4 separate regions of the Homo sapiens genome follow, and all the other regions are linked to region 3. The links come from fine-mapping of genetic effects on plasma protein levels. A gene starts in region 3. Each other region holds a variant in brackets. All regions are shown on one strand. Distances are from middle to middle.

Region 1 (2,500 bases), 86 kb before region 3:
CTTAATGATTTGAAGCCTTTTATATAGTAAGTGAATTAATCCTTTGTGGGATTGTCCCAAGTTTGCTTATTTTTTAAATTAATTATTAATTATTATTATTTTTTGAGACGGGGTCTCAGTCTTCTAGGCTGGAGTACAGTGGCATGATCTTGGTTCACTGCATCCTTGACCTCCCAGGCTGAAGTGATCCTCCCGCCTCAATCCCCCAAGTGGCTGGGCCTACAGGCGTGTGCCACCATGCCCAGCTAATTTGTGTATTTTTTTTTGTAGAGACGGGTTTCGCCATGTTGTCCAGGCTGATCTGGAACTCCTGAGCTCCAGCAATCTGCCTGCCTCAGCTAGGATTACAGGCGTGAGCCACTGCACCTGGCCTTTTTTGTTTTTTGTTTTTTTTGAGATGGCGGTCTCACTCTGTTGCCCAGGCTGGAGTGCAGTGGTGTGATCCTGGCTAACTGCAACCTCCACCTCCCAGGCTTAAGCCATCCTCCCATCTCAGCCTCCCAAGTAGCTGGGACTATAGGCACATACCACTATGCCCAGCTAATTTTTGTATTTTTGGTAGAGATTGGGTTTCACCATGTTGCTCAGGCTCATCTCAAACTCCTGAGCTCAAGCTGTCTACCCACCTCAGCCTCCCAGAGTGCTGGAATTGCAGATGTGAGCCACTACACCTGGCCAGAAATCTTTTCTTTTATAAGAAATCATACATTTTTGAGAGCCCTTATTCCAAACGTGGTATGCTTAGAAGAAGCTCTATTATTTAGTAACAAGCATTTCGTTACATTAGCATTTTACTTCATCACATGCTTAATTTTGCCTCTTGTTCTTTGTCATGCTATCCTAAAGAGAAACAAGACTCATTGATACTGTTGCCTGAAGACATGGGCCCAAAATGACTGCTGTAGCTCTAAAGACCAATAAATACCATTAGGAAAGAATGAGAAAAGCCCATTTGTGCTTATGTCAGAACATAGAATGTGCTGGGGAAATTTTTACTGGTCATGGATAAAGCCAAGGCAGACATTATGGAACT[A/G]GGAGCATATAGGGAGGGGCAACTGAAATGATTGTGGGGGAATGGCTGTTACTGAGGAGAGAAGAAAACCAGTTTTGTCTTTTTGTTTTAATATTTGAAGACTGAAGGCTCTTAGAAGGATCACATTTTGTAAAATTGTGAATGGTATTGATAGGTGACCACAGTCTTAAGAATTCTATAGCAAAGCAACTTGGGAATCTACAAAGTAGATTTTACACAAAATTGAGTGCTGAAGTAAATGTCAGCTGATATATAACTTTTTACTCCAAAGGCAACATAAACTAATTAGAAAAATAAGAGGATAAAAAAAGATATGGTTATTTGGGGGCTTATCCTCAACATTTGCAAGGGTTAGCATGGGAGTTATCATAAATACCTTTCCCGAGGCTACCTTCTGCTGGCATTAATAATTCAGAAACATAGGTTGAGGATCTCTTTCACCCAGGAGATTTCTTGTTATTTTTGTGTGATTTATGTTTTCCTTCCTTCACTCCTCCAGCTTTTTGGAAGCAATACCCCTTTTTTTTTTTGAGATGGAGTTTTGCCCCTGTTGCCCAGGCTGGAGTGCAGTGGCGTGATCTCGGTTTATTGCAACCTCTGCCTCCCGGGTTCAAGTGATTCTCCTGCCTCAGCCTCCCGAGTAGCTGGGATTACAGGCATGTGCCACCACGCCTGGCTAATTTTGTATTTTTAGTAGAGGCAGGGTTTCTCCATGTTGGTCAGGCTGGTCTCGAGCTCCTGACCTCAGGTAATCCGCCCACCTCAGCCTCCCAAAGTGCTGGGATTACAGGTGTGAGCCACCTCGGCCGGCCAGTAATACCTTTTTAGAATAGAAAGGCTTTGTTTTACCTTATGTTTTCTTTGGTTCATATCTTCATAACCATAGTGTGTTTCTGTCAATCTTTTATATGTAACTCACTCTACACTGCTGTGACCTTCCCATCCAGTTATCACATGATTTTGCAGAAGAGATTTGGCTTCTACTTAATTTAGACCTTTTTCCTTTGCCCTTCCCCAATAAAGGACAAAGAGATTTTCAGCAGATCAGTTGCCAGATTCTGTATTGTTTTAATATTAGTATAGTTTTATTGGAAACCCTAAAGGTCTTATTAATGATTATAGTTACAGAACTTTTTTTTTTTTGAGACGGAGTCTTGCTCTGTTGCCCAGGCCAGAGTGCAGTGGTGTGATCTCGGCTCACTGCAATCTCCGTCTCCTGGGTTCAAGCAATTCTCCTGCCTCAGCCACCCAAATAGCTGGGATTACAGGCACGTGCCACCACGCCCAGCTAATTTTTTTGTATTTTTAGTACAGACAAGGTTTCATCATGTTGGCCAGGCTGGTATCAAACTCCTGATCTCAAATGATCTGCCTGCCTCGGGCTCCCAAAGTGCTGGGACTACAAGCATGAGCCACCACGCCCAGCCTACAGAACTTTTATAATGAATAAAAACTAGAATTCAGTTA
Region 2 (2,500 bases), 13 kb before region 3:
CAAGGCGGGTGGATCATGAGGTCAGGAGATGGAGACCATCCTGGCTAACATGGTGAAACCCCATCTCTACTAAAAATACAAAAAATTAGCCGGGCGTGGTGGCAGGTGCCTGTAGTCCCAGCTACTAAGGAGGCTGAGGCAGGAGAATGGCGTGAACCCGGGAGGCGGAGCTTGCAGTGAGCTGAGATGGCGCCACTGCACTCCAGCCTGGGCGACTAAGCAAGACTCTGTCTCAAAAAAAAATGAAAGCCAGGGATGGTGGTACATGCCTATTGTCCTAGCTTCTTGGGAGGCTGAGGCAGGAGGATCACTTGAGCCCAGGAGGTTGAGGCTGCAGTGAGCTGTGATTGCACCACTGCACTCCAGCCTAAGTGACAGAGCCAGGCCCTGTCTCAAAAAACAAAAAACCAAACCAAATACCCACCCACACACACACACACACACACACACACACACACACACACACACACACACAGAAGAATGATCCTAGAATCAAGGAAATATGATACTTGCCTGAAGTCTGAGATCCTTCAGGGACTGAGCTGATGCTGAGCTCAAGAAGTGTGTGCTGGGTGGATCTTGGATGTGAATCTCCCTGAACTTGCCCAGAGAAAGGAGAGAGAGCATGAAAAAGAGAAGGGAATTTGGGATCTGATAGAGTTGGGTTCAGACCCAGCAGTTGTGATTTTGAGCAACACCTCTGCTTCTCTACCCTTGGTTTCCTGGACCCTAAAGTGGAGTTTTAATACATCACAGAGTTGCTGTGAGGCCAAATTGTCAAGTACAGACTAGCATGGGATGGGGGTTTGGAAGTGATTCATGACAGTGAAGTTGGCCCTCCTGCTGTTGATCCAACCCCACCCATCCAAGCCTGCCAGAGGGCGCACTGTGCTCTCCAGGACATGAGCTGTGAGGCCCAAACCCTGGGGAGAAGATAGATGCTGGAAGGGGAAAGGAATATGACTCAGCCCCAGGGATCTTGGGAGGACA[G/A]CAGCTTCTGGGCCATGAACAAGGGTGGGTACAAAAGCCTCCTGTGGGGGTGACTGAACTCTGCCCTGGCCTCAGATACTTCCCACTTACCTGACCCAAAGGCTGATGATCTTCTGGTATTGCACATTCCTTTATTTCTTTCTTTTGAGACGGAGCCTCACTCACTCTGTCGCCCAGCCTGGAGTGCAGTGGCGTGATCTTGGCTCACTGCAACCTCTGCCTCCCGGGTTCAAGCGATTCTCCTGCCTCAACCTCTTGAGTAGCTGGGATTACAGGTGTGCACCACCACACCCAGCTAATTTTTTTATTTTTAGTAGAGACAGGGTTTCACCATGTTGGCCATGCTAGTCTTGAACTCCTGACCTCAAGTGATCTGCCCACCTCAGCCTCCCAAAGCACTGGAATTACAGACGTGAGCCACTGTGCCCGACCTGCATATTGCTTTAAATGAAGGCATCATTAACTGTAAGGCCCTTGTTAGGGATAAAATGTTTTACCTGTGAGCCAGGTGACACATTTTCCTCTGAATACCAACTGCTAACGTTTGTATGGTTAGTGTCCCACCACTTAGAGTACTTCCTTATGACATCATTATATTCAATTTGATCCTCACAATAAAACTGGGATGTCAGGCATATTATTATTCCCCTACTTTTTTTTTTTTTTTTTTGGTCAGAGAAAGAAATGAAAACTCAGAGAGGTATATGCCTTGCCCAAGGTCACAGTGCAGAAGTGGAATGCTGATCCTGGTTTCACCAGCTAATCGGCGAGCAACATGAATTGAGCAGCTACATGGAGCTAATGATTATTCTACTTCACGGAGTTGCTGTGGGCTTTGATATGAGAAAACACATGCAAAGCTCCTAGTGCCTGGCATGTAGCACTCAGACACGAGCTATTAGTTCTCTGGGCAGTGGAAAAGAGGGTGGTCAGGGAAGGCTGCACAAAGGAGGTGGCATTTGGATTGGGCACTAAAGAACAAGCTTCCCCAGGTGGGAGGAAGTCATTCCAGGCAGGGAGAATAGGGATGAAGGGATAAGGGGTGTGGGGGCTGGCATACTGGGAGCGCTGATTGTGGGGAGAATGGTAGAAAAAGCTGGGGGTGCCAGGGAAGAAGTGCGAAGGGCCATGCATGACGGAAGCTAAGGAGATTGTGCATCTGCCCCCAGCTCTGCTGCTCGCTTCACCTCAGCCGGCCTAGCTTATCTGGAGACAAATGACGGGACAGGTCATGGGATAGTCGTGCTTTGATGGGGAAAGTGTCGGAGCAAAGGACTGTTGGGTAGAACAGGCTCAGGGTGAGGATTCCAGCCCCTAGAAGCTGTGGGAAGACACAGTCTCCAGCCCGAGGTGGTGAGCTTCCAAAGAGGGATGGACAATATGACAGTGTCGCAGGCCTTTCCGTTCTGCGGAAGACAGTGCTCCCATCCTGCCACGATCAGTGTGTCCAGCTGCAGGCAGAGCGTCCAGAGAGACCCCAGGAGAGAGCAGGTCTCAGCCCATTGTGCCA
Region 3 (2,715 bases):
GAAAGTATACATTTGGGCATCATTAGCATAAAGATGCTCTTTAAAGCCTTGAGGACCAGATGAGATCACTAAGGGAAGCAAGTGTTTCAAGGAAGAGGGAGTGATTCACTAAGTCAAATGCTGCTGATAGGGCAAGTGAAGATGGGGCGTGGCAATGAATGAATAAACGCCAGGCCTGTTAGATATGCAAAGCGCCAGTGATTATTGAGGGTTAACTGACAACAGACAGGTGTAGAGACAAGATGGCTCTAAGTCACAGGAACACTTAGAGACACAGGGAAGGGAAGAACTATGGCATCTTGGAGTTGGAAAGGACCTTAACTAGGTCATTGAATCTGTACTCTTTTCCCCACCCTAGCCTGACAATTGAACCCTTGGCTGTAGAACAAGAAATATTTGCGGGATACTGAGGCAAACAGTCTGGCTAGGTAGGTTAGAGAAAGTACCGTTGAAGAATGAGAAAAAGGGTACTTCAGTAAATGCTGGACAGCAGAGGCAGGGTGAGGGAGTGGAGATGACCTTCCGAAGTCAGAAAACCAAGGTTCAGGTCCTGTATCTGCTGCTCCCTAGCCTCCTGTCCTTGGGCAAGTCACTTCACCTTCTCCAGCCTCAGTTTCCCCATGCGGCGACATCTGAATATGGTAGTGCTTGAAGGTAGTGTAAAAGTGTCCTGCCTGTGTTAGTTACTGCCAGAGCAAGGGAAGGAGGCCAAGAGAAGCCCTTGGTTTGGGATGGCAGATAGGACTATCAAGATCTCCGCAGGTGGGCTGGCGCAACGTGTGGAGAAGCGAACCAGCATTCAGGCCAGGACCTGGGCTGGAATGGACTGGGCTCGGGTGGCAAGGGGGCCATCTGGACAAAGACCGTGGCCCTGAATCTGCCTCCCCTGAGCCTGGAACGGAGGTGGAGACCCCGAGGCAGCAACAGGGAGAAGAAATAGAGACGCTGAGGCAGAGAGACCAGAAGACTCAGAGACGGGGAGACTAAGAGACAGACCCAGCAACAGGCGGCCTCACGGGGGCCCGCGGCGACCCGGAGAGGGCGAGGCACCGGGACACAGACCCGGGCCGAGAGGAGCCCCCGCGAGGCGCAGGGCCGTGGCGCGCGGGCGCAGGGTCCCCGGCGGGGCCAGGGTGGCCACACTCGCCGGGCGCCCCCTCCCGGGCCGCTCGCCCAAGATGGCGATGGAGGGGCGGGTGAGGCGGCAGCGGCCCTGGCCCCCGCGCCGGCCCCAGCTCGGGCCCGGGCCCCCGAGGCCGCGCCCCCGCCCGCGGCGCCGCGCCTCCCCGGGCCACTGACGCCCGGCGCGCTCTCCCCCCGCGGCGGCGGCCGAAGCACGGGGAGGCGGCGGCGGCGGCGGCGGCCCGAGCCCAGCCCCATGGCGCGGGGGGACGCCGGCCGCGGCCGCGGGCTCCTCGCGTTGACCTTCTGCCTGTTGGCCGCGCGCGGTAAGGGCGGGCGCCCGGAGAGGCAGGAGCGACTGCGGAGTGCTGGTGCGCCCGCGCCCTGGTCTGCATCGGGCTGCGGGGCTGGCTCAAGCCGGAGTCCCGAGCAAGTGCGGGGGCTGCGCGTCCAGGTGCCCGCGATGCCTGCGCGGGGGTCTGCGAGCTGCGGCCGGGGGGCGTTTGTGGGGCGTGCTTGTCCGCAGTGGGTGTGTGCCTTTGGTTCGCAGAGTCTGGAGTCGTGTGTGTGTGTGTGTGTGTGTGTGTGTGTGTGTGTGTTGGGAGTGCTCCTGTCGTGTCCGCAGTGCGTGCCATGGTCGCGGCGTGGCATCGGCGGGGCGGGTAGCTGCGGTGTCGGTGGCTTTCGCGGGGCGGGCTCTGCCTTGCCTGCGCGTGTCTTGGGTTGAGAGTGTGTGTAAAAGAGGAGGGAACTGGGGTTGTGTCTGCACCTCCATTTGGGTCGGGTGCGTGTGCAATTGTGTTTATGGGGCTGAGCTAATATTTGGCCTTGGCATTTGGGAAGTGTCCTTGCCCATAGTGGGGGACAGAGCGATGGATCCCGTTTGACTGGGGGTGGTGGTGATAAAACAACACTCAACTTTGCCCAGTGGGTGTGGTCCCTGGGGCCGGTTAGAGAGGGGTAGAGGGAGGTGTTGCTCCCCAAAACCTGTGGCCAGCAGTGGACTGGGGGAGGGGGCAGGAAACCATTTGCTTTCGTGGACATGTCCAGCGCTTGTTCTCACGATGGGACGCGTGTCACCCCGGCCCCACCCCCCAGGGACCGACCAGGGAAGCGTGGACGAGGTCAGCAGGGCCTCATCCAGTCCGCAGCCCAGTGCGGAGTGGGTACGGGGTAAGTCAGAGTTGTCCAAGCTGGAGAAAGGGCTGGGGAGGGGATAGCGAAGTCCCCAAGGGTGTGTGTCTAGGGCTGCGGCTTCCACCCACAGCTCTGTCGCTTCCTGTCCGGTGTGCGTTTGGGGGCGGCTCATGGGGAGTGTAGGTGGCAGGGCTGGGAGGGGGATGGGCTGGCCGCTTTGTTCGCCTAGTTCTTGCCTTCCCCGCGGAGGGGGGAGCTGAGGATGTGTCCGGGGAGAGTCGGGGAGGGACTTGGAGGTGGGGGTGGGGAGGGGGATTTCTCTCCAGCTGCTGCGGCTTTCCAGAGAGACTCAGCCAGGCCACGTGGGAGGGAGGCGGGGGGAAGGAGCCTCCGCCTGGCCAGCCCCAGGCCCATCTCCAGGAAAACCAAACAGCGGGTGGGAAAGTGCCGGGAACT
Region 4 (2,500 bases), 12 kb after region 3:
TTTAGTAGAGACGGGGTTTCACCATGTTGGTCAGGCTGGTCTTGAACTCCTGACATCATGATCCACCTGCCTCGGCCTCCCAAAGTGCTGGGATTACAGGTGTGAGCCACTGCACCCAGCCACTATATTCTTTTCTCACAGAGTCTCGTTCTGCCAGCCAGGCTGGAGTGCAGTGTCGTGATCGTGGCTCACTGTAGCCTGGAACTTCTAGGCTCAGGCGATCCTCCTTGCTTCAGCCTCCTGAGTAGCTGGGACCACAGGCCTGTGCCACCATGTACAGCTAACTTTTTAAATTATCTGTAGAGACGGAGTCTCTCTGTGTTACCCAGGCTGGTATGCTTTTTTAATTGAGAGACAATTCACGTACTACAAAATTCACCCTTTACAGTGTTCAACTCAGTGGTTTTTAGTATATTCATATTCACAACGTTGTGCAACCACAGCCACTATCTAATTCTAGAACATTTTCATCACCCCCAAAAGAAACCCTGTACTCATTAGCAGTCACTCTCTGTCCTTCCTCCTCCCAGTCACTGACAATCATTAATCCACTTTCTGTCTTTATGGATTTGCCTCCTCTGGGCATTTCGTAGAAATGAGATCATGCAAAATGTGGCATCTTATGATTGGCTTCCTTCACTTAGCGTCAAGTTTTCTTGCTACCTTGTAGCATGCATCAGTCCTTCATTCTTTTTGATGGCTGAGTAATCTATCCATTCATCAGGTGATGGGCTTTTGGGTTGTTTCCACTCATTGGCTATTATGAATAATGCTGCTATGAGGAAATTGAGCAGCAGGGGAAGACAGGCACAGAGGAATGCAGCAGTTTGTCCAAGGTCACAGTTAGTAAGGGGAGAGCCAGGATCCAGATGCAGGTGTTTCTCCTTGATTTGCCCCAGCCCCTGCATGGGTGACTCAGGAGCAGAGGCTGTGGGAGGTGGGGGGACATACACTGATGGCCCCGTGCTCCTCCTCTATGCAGGGGAGCTGCTGTTGCCCCAGGAGACGACTGTGGAGCTGAGCTGTGGAGTGGGGCCACTGCAAGTGATCCTGGGCCCAGAGCAG[G/C]CTGCAGTGCTAAACTGTAGCCTGGGGGCTGCTGCCGCTGGACCCCCCACCAGGGTGACCTGGAGCAAGGATGGGGACACCCTGCTGGAGCACGACCACTTACACCTGCTGCCCAATGGTTCCCTGTGGCTGTCCCAGCCACTAGCACCCAATGGCAGTGACGAGTCAGTCCCTGAGGCTGTGGGGGTCATTGAAGGCAACTATTCGTGCCTAGCCCACGGCCCCCTCGGAGTGCTGGCCAGCCAGACTGCTGTCGTCAAGCTTGCCAGTAAGTGCTTGCATCGGGCGGGGGTCTGAGGCTGAAACCCAGACTTGGGGTGTGCGAAGTGGGATCTGCAGTTAGTTACTTGCACAAATGCCTCTCTCTTGATCCCACTCCCCCTTTCCCTGCCTCCCATCCTGCTCAATAGGTCTCTTCCTGGTATTGTCTATCCTCATTCTTGGGTATTCCATAATCTTCCCGCTTCTTCTCCACTCCCCTGTTCCTTCTGCTTTTCTTTCCCTTTGAGTCCTAGAGTCTGGGCTTGTGCTGTCCTCCAGGGAGCCTGCCAGAGTGCCCCCTTTGTGTCAGAGGCACAAAGCTGCCTCCTAAGGGAGCTCCTGCCTGCACGGCAGGTGGAACATGTGGAGCCAAACCCCACGCTCCAGCCTTACCCCTTAGGGGGCTCTCAGGAGGCACAGATCACCATGAAGTAACTTTCAGGCCAGAAGAAGTGTGCATCTTACTGTATAGTTTGACCATCATGATGATGTTGGGCAGGGGGGCTTTGGAATTCATTCTGCTGGCAGTATCTGACCGCTAATCACCACTTCTTGTTGTGTCTCCCTCGGTCTGAATTGGCTCTGCTGTGTGTTTCTGTGACTGTGTGTTTCTGTGTCTCCATGCGGATGTGTTTCACTGTTTGTGCTTGCTGTGGCTTCTCTCTCCTATTCTTTTCCCGTCCCTGCCTGTGTCTCACTGTCCCCAGCACTCGCAGACTTCTCTCTGCACCCGGAGTCTCAGACGGTGGAGGAGAACGGGACAGCTCGCTTTGAGTGCCACATTGAAGGGCTGCCAGCTCCCATCATTACTTGGGAGAAGGACCAGGTGACATTGCCTGAGGAGCCTCGGTGAGTGCCCTGTAGGGGAGCGGGTCCTGGTAGGCAGGGCAGAGAGGGCTCTGGGGTGTGCTCAGAACTGAGATTCTTAGAGTCGAGGTAGCTGCATTTACCTAAGCTGACTTGAGTGTTAACCACCGCCTGACTCCTGGCTCATGTCTAGTCCCAAAGAGAAGTTGGACAAGAAGTTTTTGCTCCCTGGGAGGAAGCCACCCATTGAGCTGTGGAGCCTGGGTAGGTGTAGTAGTAGAGTCCTTCCCAGCACATCTAGTCCAACCACTTGCTTTATTGTGGAGACTGAAGGCCAGAGAGGAGCTGTGGCTTATCCCAAGCCGTA

Direction of the effects. Positions count from the first base shown, and alleles are read on the strand shown. Strength reflects both the effect of a copy and how common the allele is.
In carriers of allele A in region 1, the plasma level of the protein whose gene starts at base 1,294 in region 3 tends to be lower than with G alone (strong association).
For the plasma level of the protein whose gene starts at base 1,294 in region 3, A is the high allele of the variant in region 2 and G is the other (moderate association).
As copies of C replace G in region 4, the plasma level of the protein whose gene starts at base 1,294 in region 3 goes down (moderate association).

What was found. PIP is the posterior inclusion probability: the model's chance that the variant is causal. Protein levels are from antibody-based Olink assays in UK Biobank. Linkage for the fine-mapping came from a reference panel and not from the study's own genotypes, which makes the PIPs less certain.
Region 1: its variant is fine-mapped to the plasma level of the IGDCC4 protein (UK Biobank, PIP 0.97).
Region 2: its variant is fine-mapped to the plasma level of the IGDCC4 protein (UK Biobank, PIP above 0.99).
Region 4: its variant is fine-mapped to the plasma level of the IGDCC4 protein (UK Biobank, PIP above 0.99). The variant lies in the coding sequence of IGDCC4. If it changes the protein, the assay may bind it differently, which can mimic a change of level.

The regions. Positions count from the first base shown.
Region 1 is chr15:65,507,916-65,510,415 of GRCh38, reverse strand. The region is part of intron 2 of DPP8 (dipeptidyl peptidase 8); the gene reads left to right. Among named protein-coding and RNA genes, the nearest start is that of DPP8, 8.5 kb to the left of the region's middle. The variant A/G (reference allele first, on the strand shown) is at 1,034.
Region 2 is chr15:65,434,281-65,436,780 of GRCh38, reverse strand. No RefSeq gene overlaps it. Among named protein-coding and RNA genes, the nearest start is that of IGDCC4, 13 kb to the right of the region's middle. The variant G/A (reference allele first, on the strand shown) is at 991.
Region 3 is chr15:65,421,526-65,424,240 of GRCh38, reverse strand. It overlaps IGDCC4 (immunoglobulin superfamily DCC subclass member 4), which reads left to right and starts at 1,294. Exons shown (of 20, transcript NM_020962.3): 1 at 1,294-1,448. The coding sequence starts at 1,379. RefSeq lists enhancers at 482-1,016, 1,992-2,261, 2,282-2,391.
Region 4 is chr15:65,409,853-65,412,352 of GRCh38, reverse strand. IGDCC4 (immunoglobulin superfamily DCC subclass member 4) reads left to right here. Exons shown (of 20, transcript NM_020962.3): 2 at 983-1,333; 3 at 2,034-2,175. Among named protein-coding and RNA genes, the nearest start is that of IGDCC4, 12 kb to the left of the region's middle. RefSeq lists an enhancer at 1,097-1,754. The variant G/C (reference allele first, on the strand shown) is at 1,066.